Homo sapiens: one gene and its partner. The protein of the gene in region 1 interacts with the protein of each later gene in a biochemical or structural test. Each region holds a gene or a part of one and is shown on either strand. Other genes may lie near its edges.

Region 1 (6,417 bases):
TGTCCCTGGGCAGGGTCCTCACGTCTCCTCTGGGACATCACCATGTTGGCCTTGTGTTGTCCTTGGCTCTAGGGGGACCTGGGGATGGGGTCTTGCAGGGGTGTGGCCAGCGTGGACGTGGCCTCCCCCGAGCCAGGGGAACGGGCTGTGTGCGGGGCTGCCAGAGCGTCCTGGAAATGCCACTGTGGGGTATTGGGGCACCCCTCCGAGTGGTGCCACCTGTGTGAGGAGGTGCCCAGGCACTGGTGACGCCCGTCACGGTGGGGCAGGTCGGAGGGGCTCAGCCAAGGCGCTGATGACGCTGGTGACGCCCGTCACGGTGGGGCCAGGTCGGAGGGGCTCAGATCGCCGGGAGCCACCAAAGGGTCAGCGGGTGGCTGGCAGAGGCCAGGTCCCCTCGGCCGCCCTCCAGGACCCACGGGTTGGGAGCCACCCTGGCCTGCGTGTGCCTGGCCAGCCAGAGACCGCTGGGTCCGGAGCCCCTCTGTCCTCACACTTGGGGGGGTTTGCAGGTGATGCCGGCGTCACCGTGACCCGGCCTCCTGTTCTCTCCTGCAGGATTATATCTGTCCAAGATGCGAGTCTGGTTTTATCGAGGAGCTTCCGGAAGAGACCAGGTAATGCAGCCCCCTGTTGAAGAGGCTGGAAGAGCCAGCCGGGCCTCAGCTGTTGTAGGGGTGTGGGCTGTGCTGGCGTCCGCCCCGCCGAGTGTGGGGCCGTCAGGCCCTGGTGTCTGTGGCTCCGGGAGCACTTTTCTCTGTGCAGACAGCAGCGTGCCGTTCTCTTCTGTGATGGCCGGGCCGGGGCCAGAGGGGAGTGCCGGCAACCTGTGCAGCCGCTCACCTCCCTCAGCCTCGGCGGCTAATCTGGTGACCCAGGCCCTCCGGGGAAGGGGCCACGGGGGCCCTACCCACATTCTCACGCTTAGGAGGCTGTTGGGGTCTGCACCGGTTTATCGAGAAACCCGTGGTTTACTGGCGAGGGAAGCAGCAGCGGGTTACGGCACCAAATGCTGGGGCGGTGGCGGGTGGGAAGCAGTGCCAAGGACAATTCCTGCTCTCCCAACATAGGCTTTTGAGGGGAGGGAGCGCCTGGCGCATGGGGGCACAGGGTAGCCGGCACTGCTGACCTGCACTCTCTCCCCAGGAGCACAGAAAATGGTTCTGCCCCCTCCACAGCTCCCACAGACCAGAGCCGGCCACCGTTGGAGGTGAGTCGCCCGCCCCTCGTGCTTCCCGATCGTGTCAGCCTTGCTCGGGGCCCCGAGCGCCAGCCTGTCCCCACCTCGCCTCCCCGGCTCTCCCTGCCCGCACGGCGGAGGAAATTTTTCCCTCCAGGGGCCCGGGCCAGGGATTGGGGCGGCCCACGCTGCTTGGTTGGTTTCTTGGATGAAAGCGAAACTTCCACCGAGGCATCTCACACCAGCGGGGCAGGCTCTGCCCAATTCCTGCCTCCCTGTCTGCGTCTCCCTCCCACCCGGCACCCAGCAGGGCCCGTCTTGCTTTCTCCTTTGTCTTTGTGCCCTAGCGCCCCCAGCAGACTGCACGGGCCTGAGCCCCCGAGGTCACGCCCCCCTCCTCTCCCCAGCACGTGGACCAGCACCTGTTCACGCTGCCGCAGGGCTACGGACAGTTTGCTTTCGGCATCTTCGATGACAGCTTCGAGATCCCCACGTTCCCTCCTGGGGCGCAGGCTGACGACGGCAGGGACCCTGAGAGCCGGCGGGAGAGAGACCATCCGTCCCGGCACCGGTACGGCGCCCGACAGCCCCGCGCCCGCCTCACCACGCGGCGGGCCACCGGCCGGCACGAAGGCGTCCCCACGCTGGAAGGGTGAGGGGGCCCCGGGGGTGGCCGCGAGGGCCCCACGCCTTGAGGTCGGAAGTTCTGGCGCTTAGAATCCAGCACGGGTTCCACGGAAACGTGGCATCATCCATAGGCTCTCTGGAGAGGCCGCCCGGCCAGGCCCTCCAGCCCCCTGTGACTCCCCACACGGCCCTTCGGAGACAGAAGTATGCCGGTTCAGGGTGTGTGGGTTGACCACAGAGTGGGGCACCGTGTGCCTGCCAGGCCCACGTGCTCTGGAGACTGCTGTCCACACGCGTGTCGTCAAACGCTGTCCAGGCCTTGGGCCCAGAACAGAGCCTGGGGGAGCCGTCGCAGGGCCCCACTCCTGGTGGAACGGAGCCTGGGGGAGCCGTCGCAGGGCCCCACTCCTGGTGGAACGGAGCCTGGGGGAGCCGTCGCAGGGCCCCATTCCTGGTGGAACAGAGCCTGGGGGAGCCGTCGCTGGGCCCTGCTCCTGGTGGAACAGAGCCTGGGGGAGCCGTCGCAGGGCCCTACTCCTGGCGGTTGATGCTTTTATGGTTGTGTGTCTCACCTGCTGGAAATGTCATCTTTAAAAGTGGCTAATTTTGCCAGGCACGGTGGCTCAGTGCTGTATTTGCAGTTCTCTGGGAGGTCAAAGAGGGAGGATCTCTTGAGGACAGGAGTTTAAGACCAGCCTGAGCAATGTAGGGAGGCCCCATCTCTAATTTTTAAAAAGTAGCTGAGGCTGGGTGAGGTGGCTCACACCTGTAATCCTAGCACTTTGGGAGGCCGAGGCGGGCAGATCACTGAGGTCAGGAGTTTGAGACCAGCCTGACCAATATGATGAAACTCCGTCTCTACTAAGAATACAAAAATTAGCCAGGCATGGCGGTGGGCGCCTGTAATCCCAGCTACTCAGGAGGCTGAGGCAGGAGAATCACTTGAACCCGGGAGGCAGAGGTTGCAGTCAGCCGAGGTCGTGCCATTGCACTCCAGCCTGGGCAACAAGAGTGAAACTCTGTCTCAAAAAAAAAAAAAAAAAAAAAAAAAGTAGCCGAGAGTGGTGGACCTCTTCTGTGGTCCCAGCTACTTGGGAGGCTGAGGCGGGAGGATCGCTTAAGCCCAGCAGGTTGGGGCTGCAGTGAACCAAGATCAAGCTGCTTCTCTCCTGCCTCGGCATTAGAGTGAGACCCTGGCTCATAGTAAAATAAATAAATAGAAGCTAATCTAGAAGCTGATGCTGGCCCTGCCCTTGGTGCTCACCACGGACCTGGCAGGCCTGGCGCCTCTCCTGTGCGTGGGGCGGCCTCACCCCGTGACTGGCGCTCTCTTTTCCAGGATCATCCAGCAGCTCGTCAACGGCATCATCACGCCCGCCACCATCCCCAGCCTGGGCCCCTGGTGAGTGGGTGGGGGTGCCTGTCCCCATCCCCAGCCTGGGTCCCTGGTGAGTGGGTGGGGGTGCCTGTCCCCATCCCCAGCCAGGGTCCCTGGTGAGTAGGAGGGGGTGCCTGTCCCCATCCCCAGCCTGGGCCCCTGGTGAGTAGGAGGGGGTGCCTGTCCCCATCCCCAGCCTGGGCCCCTGGTGAGTGGGTGGGGGTGCCTGTCCCCATCCCCAGCCTGGGCCCCTGGTGAGTGGGTGGGGGTGCCTGTCCCCATCCCCAGCCAGGGTCCCTGGTGAGTAGGAGGGGGTGCCTGTTCCCATCCCCAGCCTGGGCCCCTGGTGAGTGGGTGGGGGTGCCTGTCCCCATCCCCAGCCAGGGTCCCTGGTGAGTAGGAGGGGGTGCCTGTCCCCATCCCCAGCCTGGGCCCCTGGTGAGTGGGGTGGATAGACGCACCTGCCCCAGCTGCCCGTCAGCCACTTGAACCCCACCTTCCACCTCCAGGGGAGTCCTGCACTCAAACCCTATGGACTACGCCTGGGGGGCCAACGGCCTGGATGCCATCATCACACAGGTACAGCGTGGCCACGGCCCAGAGTGCCTGCTGGGGGAGGGCTGGGCTGCCCACCCCTGGGAGCTGCCCCACTGCCTGGACCCACGAAGCCCCACAAAGGTCAAAGGGGATGCGGGCACAGCCTCCACGCTCTGGCGGGCACAGGGGGCAGCTCCGGCCTTCCTCCTGCCATTTCTGAGTCTTGGCAACTTTGGGGGTTCTCCTGTGTTCACGCGGAACGTTGTAGCAAAACCGCGGGGAGGACTCGCCCACAGTCACATGGTCAGGAGGCCACGCGGTCCCTCTTCCCGAGAGGTCGCGCCCTGACCTGCTTCCAAGTGCCACCCGTCTCAGCCTTGCTGAGGAGCCCTTGGAGCATTTTGTCACTGGCAGGACCCGACCCTCACAGTAGCCCACCAGCCGGAGCACGGCCCCCCCATTCCGCCGTCAGGGCACTCAGGAGCGCGGCCCCCCCCCCCATTCCGCTGTCAGGGACCCAGGAGCGCGGGCCTCCGCCCATTCCCCCATTCCACCGTCAGGGGACCCAGGAGCGGGGGGGCCGCGTGGGCTCCACAGTGATCTCCGACCCCGGGCGGGCTCCAAGGGGCCCAGGGCCCAGGACAAACGCGGCCTCGGTGCTTTTGCAGGTCCTGCAGCCTCGCGTTTCAGAGCCCCGGGCCGGGCCCCCGAGGAGCTCCCGGCACTCTCGCCTCTTGTCTTTCAGCTCCTCAATCAGTTTGAAAACACAGGCCCCCCACCGGCAGATAAAGAGAAAATCCAGGCCCTCCCCACCGTCCCCGTCACTGAGGAGCACGTAGGTATGAGAGCTCAGCCTCCCGAGTAGTGGGAATTACAGGCACCCGCCGCCACGCCTGGCTCATACTTGTATTTTCAGTAGAGACAGGGTTTCACCATGTTGGTCAGGCAGGTCTCGAACTCCTGACCTCAGGTGATCCTCCTGCCTCGGCCTCCCAAAGTGCTGGGATGACAGGCGTGAGCCACCGCACCCGGCCTCGAGCATTTCCCTGAAGGTGGGCTGGGAGGAGAGGGTTCTGTCCAGGTCCCCTCTGGCAGCCCGGGGGACACACACACGGCTTTTCTCCCCTCGCTGGGCTCAGGGGCGGCCTCCGGCTGAGGCTGTGGAGTAGCCTGCCCTTGAAGGCTCGGCAGGCCCCCCACGCCCGCTGTGACCGCAGCTGCACACTCCCGCAGGCTCCGGGCTCGAGTGCCCTGTGTGCAAGGACGACTACGCGCTGGGTGAGCGTGTGCGGCAGCTGCCCTGCAACCACCTGTTCCACGACGGCTGCATCGTGCCCTGGCTGGAGCAGGTGAGTGCCCCGCCCACCCGCCCCCCCACCCCGACCGCGGCCCTCCCGCCTCTAACCTGCCCCTTCTCCCGTCCCTGCCTCTGTCCCCACAAAGCACGACAGCTGCCCCGTCTGCCGAAAAAGCCTCACGGGACAGAACACGGCCACGAACCCCCCTGGCCTCACTGGGGTGAGCTTCTCCTCCTCGTCGTCATCGTCCTCCTCCAGCTCGCCCAGCAACGAGAACGCCACAAGCAACTCGTGAGCCCACGTCGGCCGTCGGGAAAGCACGGGGCCTTTCCCACCCACCCTCAGCCAGCGCCACACGGCACCCACAGACTGGGTGCCCCGGCGGCGCCACGCTTGGCTGGTCAGCGCTGCAGGTCCCGCCTGTTCCAGGGCAGGACCCGGGCCCGGCCCACCGGCCCCCTGGCTTGGGAAGGCGTGGGCCACATGGTCCCCTCTGGGGCGTCCCCAGCCTCCCCGTCCTCTGTCTAACCTCACCCTCTAAACGTTCAGCGGTGGAAAGATTTTTATAATTTTAAATTATTACTGCTTTGAAATAAACGGACGTTTGAGCTCACGTGGCGGCCATGCATGGTTTGTGGCGGAAGACGGGGCCCAGCGGCTCCCCCAGCGCTGAAGCACGGGGTTCAGCGGCTCCCCCAGTGCTGCAGGTGCCGCCAGGACGGGCCACGTGGGCCCCCAGCCTCCCCCTCGGCCGCCTCCACGACCCGGAGTAGGGGGGCTCGGGACCATGAGGATGACCAGCAAAATTCAAGAACAAAACTGCTCCAACAGACTTTTTTAAAGGAAAAAATATGTGTATCTTGAAAGCTATTTAAAATACACTACTTACAAAGAGAAGCCGGTGCTGTGGCTTTCCTTCTGCGCCCGTGCGTCAGGAAAAGGCCAAGCTGGGAGGCTGGTCGGGCTCTGCAGAGTCCGGTCCTGTCTCCAGGGGTCTGCGCCTCCTGCAGGGCTTGGCACCCAGGGCCGGCTAGCAAAACTGCTCTCCCGAAGTTAAGCCCAGGAGGGCTGCTGGCGAGGTAGCAGGGTGGCAGTGTCACTGGGTCGTGAAATTTAAAACCAGAAACACCAGCGTTAAAGCGCCAGGGCCCAGCGCCTCTGCCCCACGCTTCGGTCACACCTCAGCCACGCGGGTTCCTGGCCCCTTCTGAAAAGCCGGACCCCACTGCTCAAGGTTGCTGGATGCCTGGCCCGGGGTGCAGCCAGCTCGGGCACAGCTGGCAAGGCGTGGGGACCTGCGGGCTCAGGGGGCCGGGGCAGTGGGTTCATCTCAGTTGCTGATGATCCCACCATCCTGGGATCCAAGAATCAGACGATGGAGACAGCTAACGGAGAGG
Region 2 (15,499 bases), on another chromosome or scaffold:
AATAAGACAGACAGGACCCTCCTTCATAAAGAAGACAAACAATAAGCTAGTAAACTAAAAACTATACCTGACAATTACAAATTTTGATGCTTTCTATGAAATACGAGAAAACCAGAATGGTGTGATAGATGGGTCTCAGGAAGGGAAGAATGCCACTTTAGAAAGGACAGATAAGAGAAGTCCCCCTGAGAAGGTGACATTTGGGATGAGTCCAAAAGATTTAGGTCTGGATTCCCCAAAACAAGCTAAGCGTATATTTAAGGTACTGGTAAGGTAGAAGCACCAAAATTTCCTTTGAAAATGTTTATTTTTATACATCAAAAAAGACATGGAAGTAGACCCCTTAGGAAAATGAGAATGCTGTAGGCCCCTCCTTATACATATTTTAAAAATGTAATATTGTGTTTATTTTTATTTAGATGGGCAGTGTAGAGGACCCTTAATCTTTCCAGGGTTTAGGATCTCTAAAGTCATACTCAATCCCCAGAATATGCCAGGAAGGGGTGTTCTAGGCAGAGAAGGAACAAGCACAAAAGTTCAGTGGCAGCAAAGAGCTTGGCCTCTTCTAGGGGCAGGAAGAAGGGCTGAAAACAGCATGAGCAAGGTTAGGGGTAAAAGCTAGGGTTGGGGGAGCAGACAGGGGCTAGGTCACATAGAGGAAATGGTTCTCAACTCTAGTTATGTATGAAAAGTCCTTGGAATATTCTACCATTTTCTGATGCCTGGGCCCTACTTCAGGAGATTTAACTGACCTGGAATGGGGTTGAGGAATTGGTATTTTTTTTAAGTTTCTCAAGTGATTCTAACATGTAACCAGAGTAAGAAAACATTGACGTGGGGCCTTGGAACCAGCCAGAGGGACACAGTGTTGAATGGTGAAGAACATGGACCCTGGAACCAGATTATCTGGTTTTGAGTCCCATCCCCACCACTGACTAGCCGTTTGATTCCCAGGCACTTTGCAAAAGCTTTCTGTTCTTCAATTTCCTCACCTATAAACATAGGGATATTAGTTTACCTACCTCATAGAGCTGTTTGTAGGCCTAGTAAGTTAATACATAGAAAGGTCTCAGAAGGCACACACTGAAGATGCAGTAACTTACTAAAATAGCTGTGACTATCCTATGCTCTTCTAGAGATGGAAAGGGGTGGATGGAGTCAAGGTGTCAATTTGATACAACTAACAGGACTTGCTGAAAAACTGGAAGAGGGAGATGAGAGGGGGAAAAAGGAATAAAAGATAGCTTCCATGTTTGGGGTTTTAGCAATTGGGTGGAAAGTGATGCTGTGTCCCAAGATGGGGAAGACTAGGAGGTAAACAAGTTTTGAAGAAAAAAAATCAAGAATTTCATCTGGCATGCATTAACTTAAAGACACCCTATTAGATATCCAAGAAGAGATGCAAATCAGACAATATGTAAGCCTGGAGCTCAGGAGAGAAACAAATTTCAGATTCATTAGCGTATAGAGCTGTCCTGTCCAATAGAGTAGCCACCAACCACACATAGGGGGCTATTTAATTTAAATTTAGATTAATTAAACAAAATTAAACATTCAGGCCACCAGTTTTCACCACATTTCAACTGCTTAAGAGCCTCATGTAGCTAGTGGCTACCATATTGGACAGCATAGATATGCAACGTTTCCATTGCTGCAGAAAGTTCTGTAGAGCACTGAAGGAGTCTCAAACCATGGAACTGGAGGAAGTCATCTAGGAAGTAGTCCATGATTCTGGCTACACACTAAAATCACCTCCAGGAATTCAGAGTTGATTTGTCTTGGGGAAGTCTCAGGCATTGGTAGTTTTTAATAACCCAGGACGATTGTAAAGTGGAGCCAGGGCTGAGAACAACTGACCCAGGGAAATAATGCTGGAGAAGAAAGGAATCATGGGAGGGCCTGGATTGCTGCAACAGTAGGGGCAGTGACCTCAGAACTAATCTTTCTCTAGAGCTCCTGATTCATGATTCACATACAACTATCTGATGAACATCTTTGCCTGCATGTCCCATAAACAGCCCAAACTCAATAAATCCAAGATGGAACTCATTTTTCTCACCAGAGGTGTTCTTCCTCTTCTCATTCCCACACTTGGGAGTCACCCCAGTGACTCCCAAGCCCCAAGTGACTCCTCTTCCACAGCACAAGTCTGCCAGGTTTTCTGATTTATCACTCAGTCTGTCTCTTTCTCTCCCCATTACCTCTGTTTTGGCCCAGTTCTTCATGGTCTCCTGCCTGAATTACTGTAACGACATCTCACTAGCTGCCTCTAGTTTTGCCCCTCCCTTAACCATCCTGCACTCTGCCACAGTGATCTACTTAAAATGCCAATCTTGTAGTGTTTTGCTGTGTAAAATGTATCAGTGTCTCTCATTGCCTATAGGATATAGTTCAGTCGAAGATAGATTGGTCGCTATGTATCAAACACCTCAAAGGAACTATGCACTGCCCTAGTTCTGAGAACACTGCACTGAGCAAGACAGAGAGCGCTCCTGAGTAGAACTGCAGCCCTGAAATGGGGACAGACAACAGAGTTATGAAAAGGAAAGTGAGGTGGCCATGGGAGCATGCAGCAAAGGGAACTGGCCTTATCTAGGTGACAAGAAAGGTCTTCCCTGAGGAAATGAGAGAACAGTGACACTTGGAGGATGAGTAAGAGTTCACCAGACCACAGGGGATGAAGAAAGTGCTCTCTCCACATGGAAAGAACTACATGGGGAAGAACCTGCGTCTGCAAAGGAACAGAACAGTGTGACTGGCACCCAGAGAGTGAGGGTTGAGGGATATGGGATGAAGCTGGAAAAGCAGACAAGGACAGGATGGTGGGTGGCTTATATGCCATGCAAAGAATCTGGGGCATTCCAAAGGGCAAAGTGGGGATCCACTGAATGATTTTATTTTTTTTTTATTCCACGAACTTTTTGCTAACCACTGAAGGATTTGAAAGAGAAGAGTGACATGGCCAAGTCTGCACTTTTTAAAAAGACTACACTGGCTTGAAGTGGAGTAGAGTGGCCAAAACCTGAGGCAGAGAGACCAGCTGTGAGGCCATACTAAATGGTCTGGGGGAGGCAATGAGATCTTAGACTAGAAGGGTGGCAGAGGAGATAGAAAGCAGATTGAATTAACAGATGTTTAAGAGGTAGAATGATAAGTCTTGGTGATTTTTTTTTTTTTTTTTTTTGAGACGGATTCTCGCTCTGTCGCCCCAGGCTGGAGTGCAGTGGTGCAATCTAGGCTCACTGCAAGCTCCGCCTCCCGGGTTCACGCCATTCTCCTGCCTCAGCCTCTCGAGTGGCTGGGACTACAGGCACCCGCCACCAAACCCAGCTAATTTTTTGTATTTTTAGTAGAGATGGGGTTTCACTGTGTTAGCCAGGATGGTCTTGATCTCCTGACCTCGTGATCCACCCGCCTCAGCCTCCCAAAGTGCTGGGATTACAGACGTGAGCCACAAGTCTTGGTGATTTTTCACATTGGAGAGGTGATGGAGAGCAAGGAGGAAAAGATGGCTCCTTGACTTCAAACCTGAGCTGCTAGGTGAATGGTGCAGCTTAGGTTAAGAAAGATGGTTACAAGTTTATGGGGTAGAAATATTGAATTTGGCTTTAGACACAGTAATTCTGATACCTGCAAGACATCCAAGTCAAAATGTAGAATAGGTAGAGGGATACACAGGTCTAGAGCTCAGACTTGTAGGTCATCTGTGTAGAAGCAGCAATGGAAGCCCTGGCAGTAAATTAAATCACTGAAGAGAGCATGTGGAATAAGAAAAGGGGCTCCAGGACTGAGTCCTGAGAAATGCTGACATTTGTAGGTTAGATAAAGAGGACAATTGAGATAAAGATCCTGAGTTTTGTCCAGAATAGGGTAAGAGGAAAACCAGCAGAATATGGTATCGTGGAAGCAAAGGAGAAATGTGTTTCTAGAAGGGAGTGGTCAGCAATTCCTAGGCATGGGATGAATAAGTGATTATTGATACAACTGCTTATTATCTGGCTCCTACTTACTGCTTCCTGCTCATTTTCTGCCATTTCCCAAAATCCATCCTTTATGATTTAACACCAACTTGTCTAACTTCTCTTGGACCATGTGATGCTTTATCTTTCATCCTCCCTTTTCACATGCAGTCCCATCTCATTCAAGGCCTCCCCATGCCCTGAACAACACCCTGTCCCAGAACCACCTGGTGAACACCATCCATCCTTTAACATCCCAAGCCTCTCAGGAATCATTTACCCTTAGGCCTTCTTTGACTACCTCCTCCCCAAAGGGCATCAATACCTGTCTCATTCTGTGCTTTTTGTTCATCTGGTATAAATTTCTATTACGGTGCCTTTCCCAATATACAATAATAACTCGTTTACAGTCTGTGTCCTCTACTTCACTATAAGCTTCTTGAGGGCAAATGCAGTTTGTATTCTGCATTTTTTTTTTTTTTTTGAAACAGAGTCTTGCTCTGTCACCAGGCTGGAGTACAGAGGCATGATCTCGGCTCACTGCAACCTCCACCTCCTGGGTTCAAGTGATTCTCCTGCTTCAGCCTCCCATGTAACTGGGATTACAGGCATGTGCCACCACACCCGGCTAATTTTTGTATTTTTAGTAGAGACAGGGTTTCATCATGTTGCCCAGGATGGTCTTGATCTCCCAGCCTCCTGATCCGCCCGTCTTGTCCTCCCAAAGTGCTGGGATTACAGGTGTGAGCCATCACACATTCTGCTTCCTATAACTATGCTTAACACAGTGTCAGGTACATGGCTGGCTTCAACAAATATTTTTGGACCTTACTAGAAGCTACCTAAATGTCACCTAAGGAATGCAAATGTCCCGGGCTGGGATAAAGCATCATGGAAATTGCCGACGTAGAGCAAGAGGCAAAGACAATTGAATAATAACAGCCATCATTTAATGATTGCTTCATTTGTGCCAGAAACTGCCTAAGTCCCTTACAGAGCTCTATCTCATTCACTCTTCATCATATCTGTTTCATAGGGGCTTATCATCATCACCACACCCCATTTAATAGGGGCTATCATAACTCTCACTTCACAGATACGGAAGTAGAAGTTATAGAAGTTAAGTCACTTGCCCAAGGTCAGGCCTTAGCAAATGGAGGAGTCAGGATTTGGAGGAACCCAGGTTTGCTTGACTTTAGAGCCCTATACCCTTAAGACCAATTGGCATTTGAGCTTGGGGAAAATTCCTTGTGCTGACTCAAACTTGTAAAGTATATTGTTTAATCTGGAAGTGGTATGTAGGCAGCAGGGTGCAGGTAATTCTAACCACACCACCCATGGCTATTCAAGGCTTCCAGCACAGTCTGCATGCCCCAGCAGCTGGTGGCTCTGCTTGACCAAAAGTTATGAAGGACAAAAGCAGAATGCCTATAAAGTCTGTTCCTTTGCCTTGATTTGTACCACGGGCAGGCTGGAGGGTGCCCAGAGTGAGCCAATGGCTACAATGTCAGACACTAAGTTGGGAGTGGAAGTGAAAGGTGAGGAGACCAGAGTGGAGGAAACTAAGCCAAGTTGCCAGGTCTTGGGCAATTTCAACACCAAGGCTCTGAGCCAAGGACAGGCTACTGTGCTTGAAATAACTTCCCAAGAGAGCCTTAACTGGTCACTTTGCCCTCTCTATCTCAGCACTGACTTTTAGGTCAATGTAACTAATATTGATTAGCCTCCTATTCTATGTTAACACCATGAAAGATACAAAGCTTTTGTCTTCCACAGAGCTGAGGCAAGCCCACAGGAAACAATGACAGAGTTGTACAAAACGGTAATCCATCCAGTGCCAGCCTGTAGAGTACAAGCCCCAAAGGCAACTGAAATTCACAGAAAGGAGAGATCAAGGTGTGCTGCCATGGGCAGTGGTAGCTTCTTGGAGCACAGGAAATTGAACTTGACCTCAAGGAAGAAAGGAAGACAAAGTAGAAAGAGGACAGCATTTCAGGTAGAAACAACTGTGTGAGCAAAAATAAATGAAGCAGCAGCAATGCGAATGAATTGTTTCTTGGCCTGTGAAGAAACCTCTCTGTGGAGCAAAGGGCTATTGTGGGAGAAGAACAGGAGAAGATCGGACCATAGAGAGCCTGAATTCCAAGAATACTAAATCAAGCAAATTCAACATGCAGGATCCAGGAGTCCATTATGTGGGCAATGAGAAATGATCTTGGCCTTTAAACAGGCAGTTGACAATAAAAAATTAAATTTTAGGAAGATTCATTTGGTGGTAGTGTTTAAGATGGATTAGAGGAGAAAGGATTAAAAGCAAAAAAACTGTCCCCTCAAAAACCTGAATGCTTCTTTAAGCATCTACTAAAAGTTGGACTGCATTCAAAAACAAACAAACAAACAAACAAAAAACAGTCCCTTCCCTGCCAGGCTTCACAGTCCATGGAAAAGCCATTCATTAATCCCATAGTTACCCATTAAGGACCTATTATGTGCTAAGAATTATACTGGGCACTGGGGACACAGTGAGGAGCAAACCAAAGTCCCTATCCTCATGAAGCCTATCCTCCAACGCACATGGAAGACAATATAAAACCACACCATTAAGTACATCCACATAGAATCAGGTAACCAAGTGCTATGAAGAAAAAGAAAGTAGGGCACTGGGTGGAGAGTGGTGGGATGCAGTAGTCAGGGAAGGCCTCTCCAAATAACTTCCATGATATTTCAAGCCCAGAGAACAAATGAAACGGAGATGTCACTGCTAGAAATAAGGATATTGAGAAGAAGACTTAGCTTGTAAGAGTATAGAGAAGGTAAGGAGTCTTGTTTTAAGTGTGTCAAGCTGTGATAATAGCAGTGTATCCACACAGAAATATTTAGACTCTAGAACTCTAGTCTATAAGACCAGAGGAGACAGTGGCTACACATATAAATTTCAGTGTCTTCCACTGATATCCGAGTGATAAGCAACTTCCTTTCTAAAACTATGAAAGTAACTAAGGGTCTAAAAAAAATTTCTAGTGCGGTAGTCTTAAAACTACAAATAGTTTTGTCATATCTCCTATGATGACTCCCTCCCTTCAGCTGCCTGGAGCCCCAGGGGTGGGCAGTGACTTTGTGTAGGCAGCAAGCAGCCGGTAACAAAATAATAATTATTATTGTTATTATTATATTATAATAATTGTAACAATAACAATTATTATTGAAGCTCATTTACAACTAACCATCCAAAAGACCTCTTTCCCCTGTGTCTTCAATCCCCAAGGCAGAGGGGTAGGGACAGTTCTATCCCTCCTCTGCACTTAACCCTTGAAACACATGCACCCCTTTGTGACTTTACCCTCTGCAGATGGCTCTGAATGTCTTAATGTCTGAGAGAAAGGGATTTAGAAAGCAAAATATAAAAATTTTAAACTAGTCCTTCCTACCTTCCTAGAAGTGGCAAGAGTTAAATGTTGAGATAGACTCAAGGGTAGGATGACTATTTCAGTTTGCCTGGAAGTGTTTCAGTTTGCCTGGAAGTATCTCAGTTTTAGTGCTCAGTTTTAGCAGGAGTCCTGCATTTCAGAGAACCCCTCAACCCTGAGCAAAATAAGATGGTTGGTCACCCTATGGCTTGGTTTGACCATCATCGCTATAACCTGTATCTTACCTGCATGCATGACACAACACAGTGCTTTACTTCCCTAAAAATGACATCAGCCCCACTAAAATATATGTTTAGTTTCCAAGCCCTACCTAGTCACCTTCTACCCTAGGAGCCAGGTTCTCTTTTCCCACCCAGACAGAGGAGCTGCACTCAGAAATTCCTAGACATGAGTTAACACTGGATTCCTTAGCCTTCTACTCCCATCATCTCCTGCTCAGCCCCAGCTACCACCTAAACTAGGAAGATCAAGTCTACCAGTGACCTCCGTCCATGGCACTTGCTGCCCCTCCTCTGTCCAGCTCTTACCAATATAGCTGCTGGAACCTGGAGGTCAAAGTCAAATTATCAAAAAAAGGAACTGAGCTGGTGATGTGCACTAACACAGCAAATCACAGGAAAGGGGAACCCCAGGTAAATTACAGCCTTCTGACCTAGGAAGACGTGTGGTTTGCGTCTCTGAGTTACAGAAACACAGGAAATGCTTACTGGACCAGTCAATTTCAGAATTTTGGGTCCCAAGCTAGGCTGACTCACCTTCAGAATGGAAACCACGTGACAGCCCTTATATCAGGGCACACATCACATGCTCTTCCAGAAGTCAATGGGTTTGGAACCCTCACAGATATTGGGAAAGCTCACTAATCATTTCTGCCAGTTATCAGAGGTTGCTCTGAAACTATAAGGAAGATTCAAAGAAAATGCCAAGACTGATATTAAACTTGGCAGGAACCCTTGTTACAGAATTTTCCTGCCTGACAAGGTTAAAAGAACAATAAGCAGGAAACACAGTCCTCCAGGAATAATCAATTCTATTTGGCCCCTGGTCACCTTCACTCAGACTAAATTCTAAAACATAGAATTTCAAATAAGCTATTTAGATAACCTTGACCATTCTCCACACACAAGCCCTTGCCTGAACTATTAATAGTCAAGGCAAAGGGTAGTTGTTATTGCTGCCTTTTTAAACTGAATCATCTGAGAAATTGCTTCAGACCCCCAAAGAAAGATTACTGTTAACAATTCAAAAACTAAAATATTTGATCCCTGAGACAGCCTTTTCCCCCGACCCGCCCTTCAGGGCTCAGTCCGACCGACTGCAAAGGCTGTTGCAAGATTGCATCACTGACCTTTGCAATTTTCTGGCCAGTTTGATTTCCCCTTCTTTCCCCTGCCCCCTCCCTTTCTCTGCTTAAAGGCCTTTGGCCAATTTGCCTCTCCTTTTCCCCAAGTTTGCTAACCCTTTGGCCAATTTGCCTCTCTTTTTCCCCAAGTTTGCTAACTCTAGCATATCCATAACCAAAGCCAAACTAGAACGCTCCCTCAGCCCCAGGTGATTACAGCTAACCCTGGTCAAAATCAATCCTACATCTTCACACGTCCAAGAGTACTCACACTCTGGATTCTTACCTAAGCTGTCTACTACACGCCCTTCTGCCCACAAACTGCTTCAAAGCTGAAGTTGAGCTGGAGCAGTGAAGTTGTACCCCCAAACCCAGGAGGGTGGCAGAGAATTATTGAGGAGAGCATGAAATACTTCCATTCTAAAATGGCAGATGAACTTCTACCAACAGCCCCTTCCATACTTGACCCCCTACCCCCAAGCTCCCAACTCCACTTCTCAAGTGGAAGTGAGAACAATTTGAATTTGAAGGCTCTTCCCTGATACACGGAAGTACATAAGGAAACAGCTCGCAGGCAAAGAGACTAATCTCTCTCTCTTTCTCTCTCTCTCTCTCTCTCTCTCTCTCTCTCACACACACACACACACACACACACACACCTCTGTGCATAAAAGCACCATCAATGAATAGTTTTCTATCAACTGACTCTAGTTATACATGCATGTACCTCTAAATAAAACCAACCAGGCAGGAAAGAAACAATATTAGCACATATTGCTTTATCCAAGCGTAACCTGTTCTGTCCTGTTACCCAGATCCTTCCCCCTTGCCTTCTCCTCTCTGATCCATTGCCACACACGTGGGAAGGTGACAACCCTTCCGAATAAAAATGAAAGCTTTCTTCTTTAGATGGAACCCCCAAATTCCCTCATTATTTATAATGTCAGGCTGTCCTGGACAAGGGAAGCTGTGCACCCGCTGACACCAGTAAGAAGGTTGCCGCCATGTCAGAGATGTCCGCGGACACCTCCCTGGGCTCCGGGTCCTCCCCTGCGCTCGCCTGGAGTGGGACCTTCGCGTGCACACTGGCCTTCCCACGCGCCCCGCTGCGATGGCACCCGCGCCGGGCCCCCTAGCTCACACAGTCGGAGCGTGCTCAGCGCGTGGCCACCTCCTGCCAGGTCCCAGCCGGGTTCCACCCCCTCCTTTTCCCCTCCTCTTCTTCCTCCCCCTCCGAGTTCCCCTGGCTCTGACCGCGCTGGCCTGGGCCGGAGAGCCCAGGAGGCGTGTCTCAGAGAAAAGATATAAGCGGCCCCCGGACGCTAAAGCGGTGCCAGCGGCGGAGTCTCCAACTGGGAGAGCTGCAGCTGCCGAGAGGAGGAGAACGCTGAGGTCGGTCGGACCAACGGACGCGCTGACCGCTGCCAACTGCAGCTCGCGCTGCCTCCTGCTCGCGCCGTGCCACTAAGGTAGTCCGCCTTTCTATGAGCCCTCCCCAAGATTAGCTGGGTGCGGGGTGGTGGGAGCCGTTCTTTGGTGGCTGAAGCCCCTCTCCTGCTGCTCCTCCTGCAGGTCATTCCCGCCTCCGAGAGCCCAGAGCCGAGATGGAAACGGTCCAGGAGCTGATCCCCCTGGCCAAGGAGATGATGGCCCAGAAGCGCAAGGGGAAGATGGTGAAGCTGTACGTGCTGGGCAGCGTGCTGGCCCTCTTCGGCGTGGTGCTCGGCCTGATGGAGACTGTGTGCAGCCCCTTCACGGCCGCCAGACGTCTGCGGGACCAGGAGGCAGCCGTGGCGGAGCTGCAGGCCGCCCTGGAGCGACAGGCTCTCCAGAAGCAAGCCCTGCAGGAGAAAGGCAAGCAGCAGGACACGGTCCTCGGCGGCCGGGCCCTGTCCAACCGGCAGCACGCCTCCTAGGAACTGTGGGAGACCAGCGGAGTGGGAGGGAGACGCAGTAGACAGAGACAGACCGAGAGAGGAATGGAGAGACAGAGGGGGCGCGCGCACAGGAGCCTGACTCCGCTGGGAGAGTGCAGGAGCACGTGCTGTTTTTTATTTGGACTTAACTTCAGAGAAACCGCTGACATCTAGAACTGACCTACCACAAGCATCCACCAAAGGAGTTTGGGATTGAGTTTTGCTGCTGTGCAGCACTGCATTGTCATGACATTTCCAACACTGTGTGAATTATCTAAATGCGTCTACCATTTTGCACTAGGGAGGAAGGATAAATGCTTTTTATGTTATTATTATTAATTATTACAATGACCACCATTTTGCATTTTGAAATAAAAAAACTTTTTATACCATATCTCATGTAATTCCTGAGAGGTGTGGTGTCCTGGGGTGGGAAGCAGGGAGGGTGAGCAGGTGGGCGATGGTGATGGGTTCTTACCTGAGCACTGCAGAGGGAGCAGCTTCCTGAGGGTCAGACACTTGCTTCACACCTAGGAACTGTGTAATAAGTTACTACATGCATATAAGTCTGTTGAGGACTTGTTTTTCCTTCTTGTTAGGGGTGGGAAGAGAGAAAATTTTATAACTTCCGTGAGATTTAGCATTTTAACATCAAAAGGTAGATCAACTTCTGAGCTACAGTGAGTAGGAGATAACTGATTAATTCTAAGGCAGAAAAGCTCTTTGTTCCTTACACCTGTGCACCAGAGGTTCCCATGGCTGATACCTTTTTCTTCCCAACTATATTTTAGACAGACAGACAGAGAGAAGGAAAGAAAATGAAGGAGGGAGGTCTGGAGGTGAAGGGAAGGAAAGAAAGGAAAAACTATCTACCTGGCAGGAAAAGAGATAAGCTCCCAAGAACACCAAAGCAGATGATGAGTCTAGCTCTACCCAGCCTTCCTCCCCACGAATCCAGATCATAGTAAGAAACTCTGGGCTAGAAAGAGAAAAAAACCGGTTGTTACATATCTGAGTCCTCCTCCTCCAGTGTACAGAGCTTCATCTGTAGTAATAGCTAATTCAGTGACTCTATAGGGCTCAGCAAAACAAATTTTAAACTTTAAAGAAGTAGCCAGGAGCCAGAGGCATGGCCTTGATGCTAGTCTCCTCACATTTTTCATGTCACCTGTCCTAATCAGGTACTGACACTTTACTCCTTTCATCAACAGCTATGCATTTTTGCCAAACATATCACTGGCTCACACCATTGCCTCTGCTCAGACTCTCTCCTTCGTCCAATGCCCTACACACATCTCCATTTCATTTCTGCCAACTCAATTCCTACCAAGTGTTCCTGGCCCTGATCAAAAGCCATCTCTTTCTGAAATCTATTCTTATCACTCCCAAAGGAAAAAAGCAATCAGAATGTGGTAAGATTAATCAAGGAAAAGAAACATATTTGGAGTTTTAAAGGAAAAGAATGTCAGTGGCACCATGGCTCTCCCAGTTTCCAAAATGGGAAATTCAGCCCTATACCAAGGCAGAGCCTCACTTTCAATGTCCAAGAAACTTCCTAGGAACTGACTCAATTTTATCCTTCCTGCTGGTCTTCCAAAATGCCTCTTTTATTAATTACTCCTTTACCCATTCAGTTACCACCTTGTCTGGCTCTCAACCGCTCAAGCCACCCCCTGCACCTTCTAGCACATTCACCCTAAACAATCCCTTGTCAGACTGTCTTCCTTTAATATCTTTCATTCTGCTGCTCCTGAACTCAAAAACATCTGAGACTAAAACTCTTATGCCAGGTTTCAGTGCCTCTGTGATGTGCTTCCATCACAGCTGGCCGTCTTGCCTGATTTGTCAGGGTGCCTAGCATGAACCCTGGTCCTTGCCTGTTTCCTTCTGGTTTTCTGCACCTTCATTTACATTACTCTTCCAACCCGAATTTCCAACCCGAATGTCCTCCCACCCACTACCTCCACATCTTCTGAAACCACATACCTCAAATTCTCCAAGGAAGGTATGATTTCAAATACAGGTATTTTGCCCATTGTCAAAATACATGTAAAATTGTGTGCTCTGATTTTTGAGATGGAGTCTTGCTCTGTCACCAGGCTGGAGTGCAGTGGCACAATCTTGGCTCACTGCAACCTCTGCCTCCTGGGTTCAAGCGATTCCACTGCCTCAGCCTCCCGAGTAGCTGGGACTACAGGCGTGTACCACCATGCCCAGCTAATTTTTTGTATTTTGGTAGAGATGGGGTTTCACCATGTTGGCCAGGATGGTCTCAATCTCCTGACCTCATGATCCGCCTGCCTCAGCCTCCCAAAGTACTGGGATTACATGATTTTTTATTTAGAGGGTAACGCCTATGTTTTGAAAGGTTGCCTATACATAAAAAAATAAAGTTCCCTAAATATATAAGTATGCCTATATGTTTTTGTGTAGAAGGAAATTCCCCATGCCTATTTATATTCAAATTACCCAACCCAATCAAATCCGAGCTATTGAAATCTCTGTTCTCACTGGTCTTCTCAATTCTCTGAGTTCTTATAGGCCGTACAGCCTGAATCTCATACCACATCACTCAGTAATGGGCTTTTTTTCTTCCAGTTGTTCTGTGGGCTTGGTCATGTCTCTTACAGTATAATCTTCTTGAAGTAAAGGACCATGTCTTCTTCAGTGTTCACAGAAATCATTAGGTCCTAGGCAAATAGTAGGTTCTTAATAAATACTTGATTGTTTAATCATTTATGAGGCTAGAGCAGTGATTGTAAATGAAAGGAGAAGCAATTTTGTCCCTCCAGAGAACATTTGACAGTCTAAAGACATTTCTGGTGTCTGGGTGAGGGGAGGGGGCAGGACTGCAAGCATCTAGAGGGTAGAAGTCAGTGGGCTGTTAAACATGTTCTAATGCACAGGACAGCCCCCAACACAAAGAATTCTCCATTCCAAAATGTCAATAGGGCAGAAGTTGAAAAATTCTGGGTTAGAGGAAAGTAAGGAAAAAGGATTTGCTTAATAATTTCAGAATCGAAGTTATGAGGTGGTCTCACAAGGCTCTGTCTGGTTACAATCAAACATGTTCCTCCCCCAACACAGGAACAAAAATTGTCTTTTTTCCTATGCTGCTTGGTAATTTTACCAACAACCTAGGAGAGGTAGCAGAAGGTATACTTATCAGTTCTGTTGGTGACACAGAGCTGAGACAGCACAGTCAGAACTCAAAACAACTCAATAGGCTGGAACCACGCATCGAAGAAAAACCAACTGAAACCGAATAGGGAAAAAGATACAGTACAGAATTCAGATCCAAAAAACCAATTGCACAACCACAGAATTTGAAAGACATATTCTAGCAGCAGATCATGTGAAAAAGATCTAGAGTTTTTTGAAATTTTTAATTGACTCATTATAATTGTACATATTTATGGAGTACAATTTGATGTTTCCATACATGAACACATTGTATAATGATCAAATCAAGGTATTTAGCATAGCCATTGCCTCATGCATTTATCATTTCCTTGTGGTGAGAACATTCAAAAGCTTCTCTTCTAGCTATTTTGTAATATACAATACCTTACTGTTAACCATGGTCACCCTACTGTGCAAAAGAACTCCAGAACTCTTCCTCCTAATTGAAACTTTGTACCCCTTGACCAGCCTCTCCTCATCCTCCCCTCCCCTATCTCCCCCCAAGTCTCTGTTAACCACACTGATCTACTCTATACTTCTATAAGATCAGTAAATATACACATATATATATATATTCCACATTTAAGTGAGATCATGTGCTATTGGCTATTCGTCTTTCTGTGTCTGGCTTATTTCACTTAACATAACATCCAGGTTCATCCATTTTGTCTCAGATGACAGGATATCATTGTTTTCCATCGTTGAATAGTATTCCATTGTATACATATACCACATGTTCTTTATCCTTTCATCCACTGCTGGCAACTTAGGTTGATTTCAAGTCTTGGCTATTGTAAACAGTGCTGCAACAAATATGGGAGTACAGATATCTCTATATACCCACCAGTGGGAATGCTGGATCTTATGGTGGTTTTACTTTTAATCTTTTAGGAACCTCCATGCTGTTTTCCATTCCATTAGGAGCTGTGCTAATTTACATTCCCACCAACAGGGTATAAGCATTCCCTTTTCTCTACATCCTCACCAACACTTGCTTTCTTTTGTCTTTTGGTAAGAGCTATTCTAACTATAGTGAAGTAGTATTTAATTGTGGTTTTGACTTGTATTTCCCTGGTGATCAGTGATGTTGAACATTTTTTTTTCATATGCCTGTTGGCCATTTTTATGTCTTCTTTTGAGAAATATTAAGGTATTTTGCCCATTTTTAAAATTAGGTTACTTGGGTTTCTTTTGCTGTTGGGTTGTTTGAGTTTCTTATACATTCTGGATATTAACCCTTCATCAGATATATAGTTTGCAAATATTTTCTCCCATTCTGCAGGTTGTCTCTTCACTGCTAATTGTTTCCTTTGCTGTGCACAAACTTTCCAGTTTGATGTAATCCCATTTGTCTATTTTTGCTTTGATTGCCTATGTTTCTGAGGTCTTATCTAAAACTTCTTTGCCTAGTCCAATGTCTCAAAATATTTCCCCATATCATCTTCTGGTAGTTTCATAGCTTCTGATTTTATGTTTAAATCTTTAATCCATTTTGAGTTGATTTTTATAGGTATGCGTGACGTAACAATGGGGCTACATTGTGAGAGATGCTTTACTAGGCGATTTTGTCATTTGCACAAACATCATGGAGTCTACTTAAAACATACCTAGATAGCATAGTCCACTACATACCTAGGCTATATGGTGTAGACTATTGCTCCTAGGCTATAA

What was found.
Region 2: of the proteins of RNF126 (region 1) and G0S2, one has a biochemical effect on the other in vitro, tested with the Homo sapiens proteins (one study listed by BioGRID).

Annotation. Positions count from the first base shown.
Region 1 is NC_000019.10:647,026-653,442, reverse strand, and holds the end of RNF126 (E3 ubiquitin-protein ligase RNF126), read left to right. Parts: intron 1-558; coding exon 559-617; intron 618-1,146; coding exon 1,147-1,210; intron 1,211-1,587; coding exon 1,588-1,832; intron 1,833-3,146; coding exon 3,147-3,209; intron 3,210-3,694; coding exon 3,695-3,764; intron 3,765-4,390; coding exon of another isoform or gene 4,391-4,467; coding exon 4,468-4,561; intron 4,562-4,955; coding exon 4,956-5,071; intron 5,072-5,165; coding exon 5,166-5,315; 3' UTR 5,316-5,917; downstream 5,918-6,417. UniProt on the Homo sapiens protein: E3 ubiquitin-protein ligase that mediates ubiquitination oF target proteins. Depending on the associated E2 ligase, mediates 'Lys-27'-, 'Lys-29'-, 'Lys-48'- and/or 'Lys-63'-linked polyubiquitination of substrates.
Region 2 is NC_000001.11:209,665,352-209,680,850, forward strand, and holds G0S2 (G0/G1 switch protein 2), read left to right. Parts: upstream 1-10,060; 5' UTR 10,061-10,198; intron 10,199-10,301; 5' UTR 10,302-10,333; coding exon 10,334-10,645; 3' UTR 10,646-11,039; downstream 11,040-15,499. UniProt on the Homo sapiens protein: Promotes apoptosis by binding to BCL2, hence preventing the formation of protective BCL2-BAX heterodimers.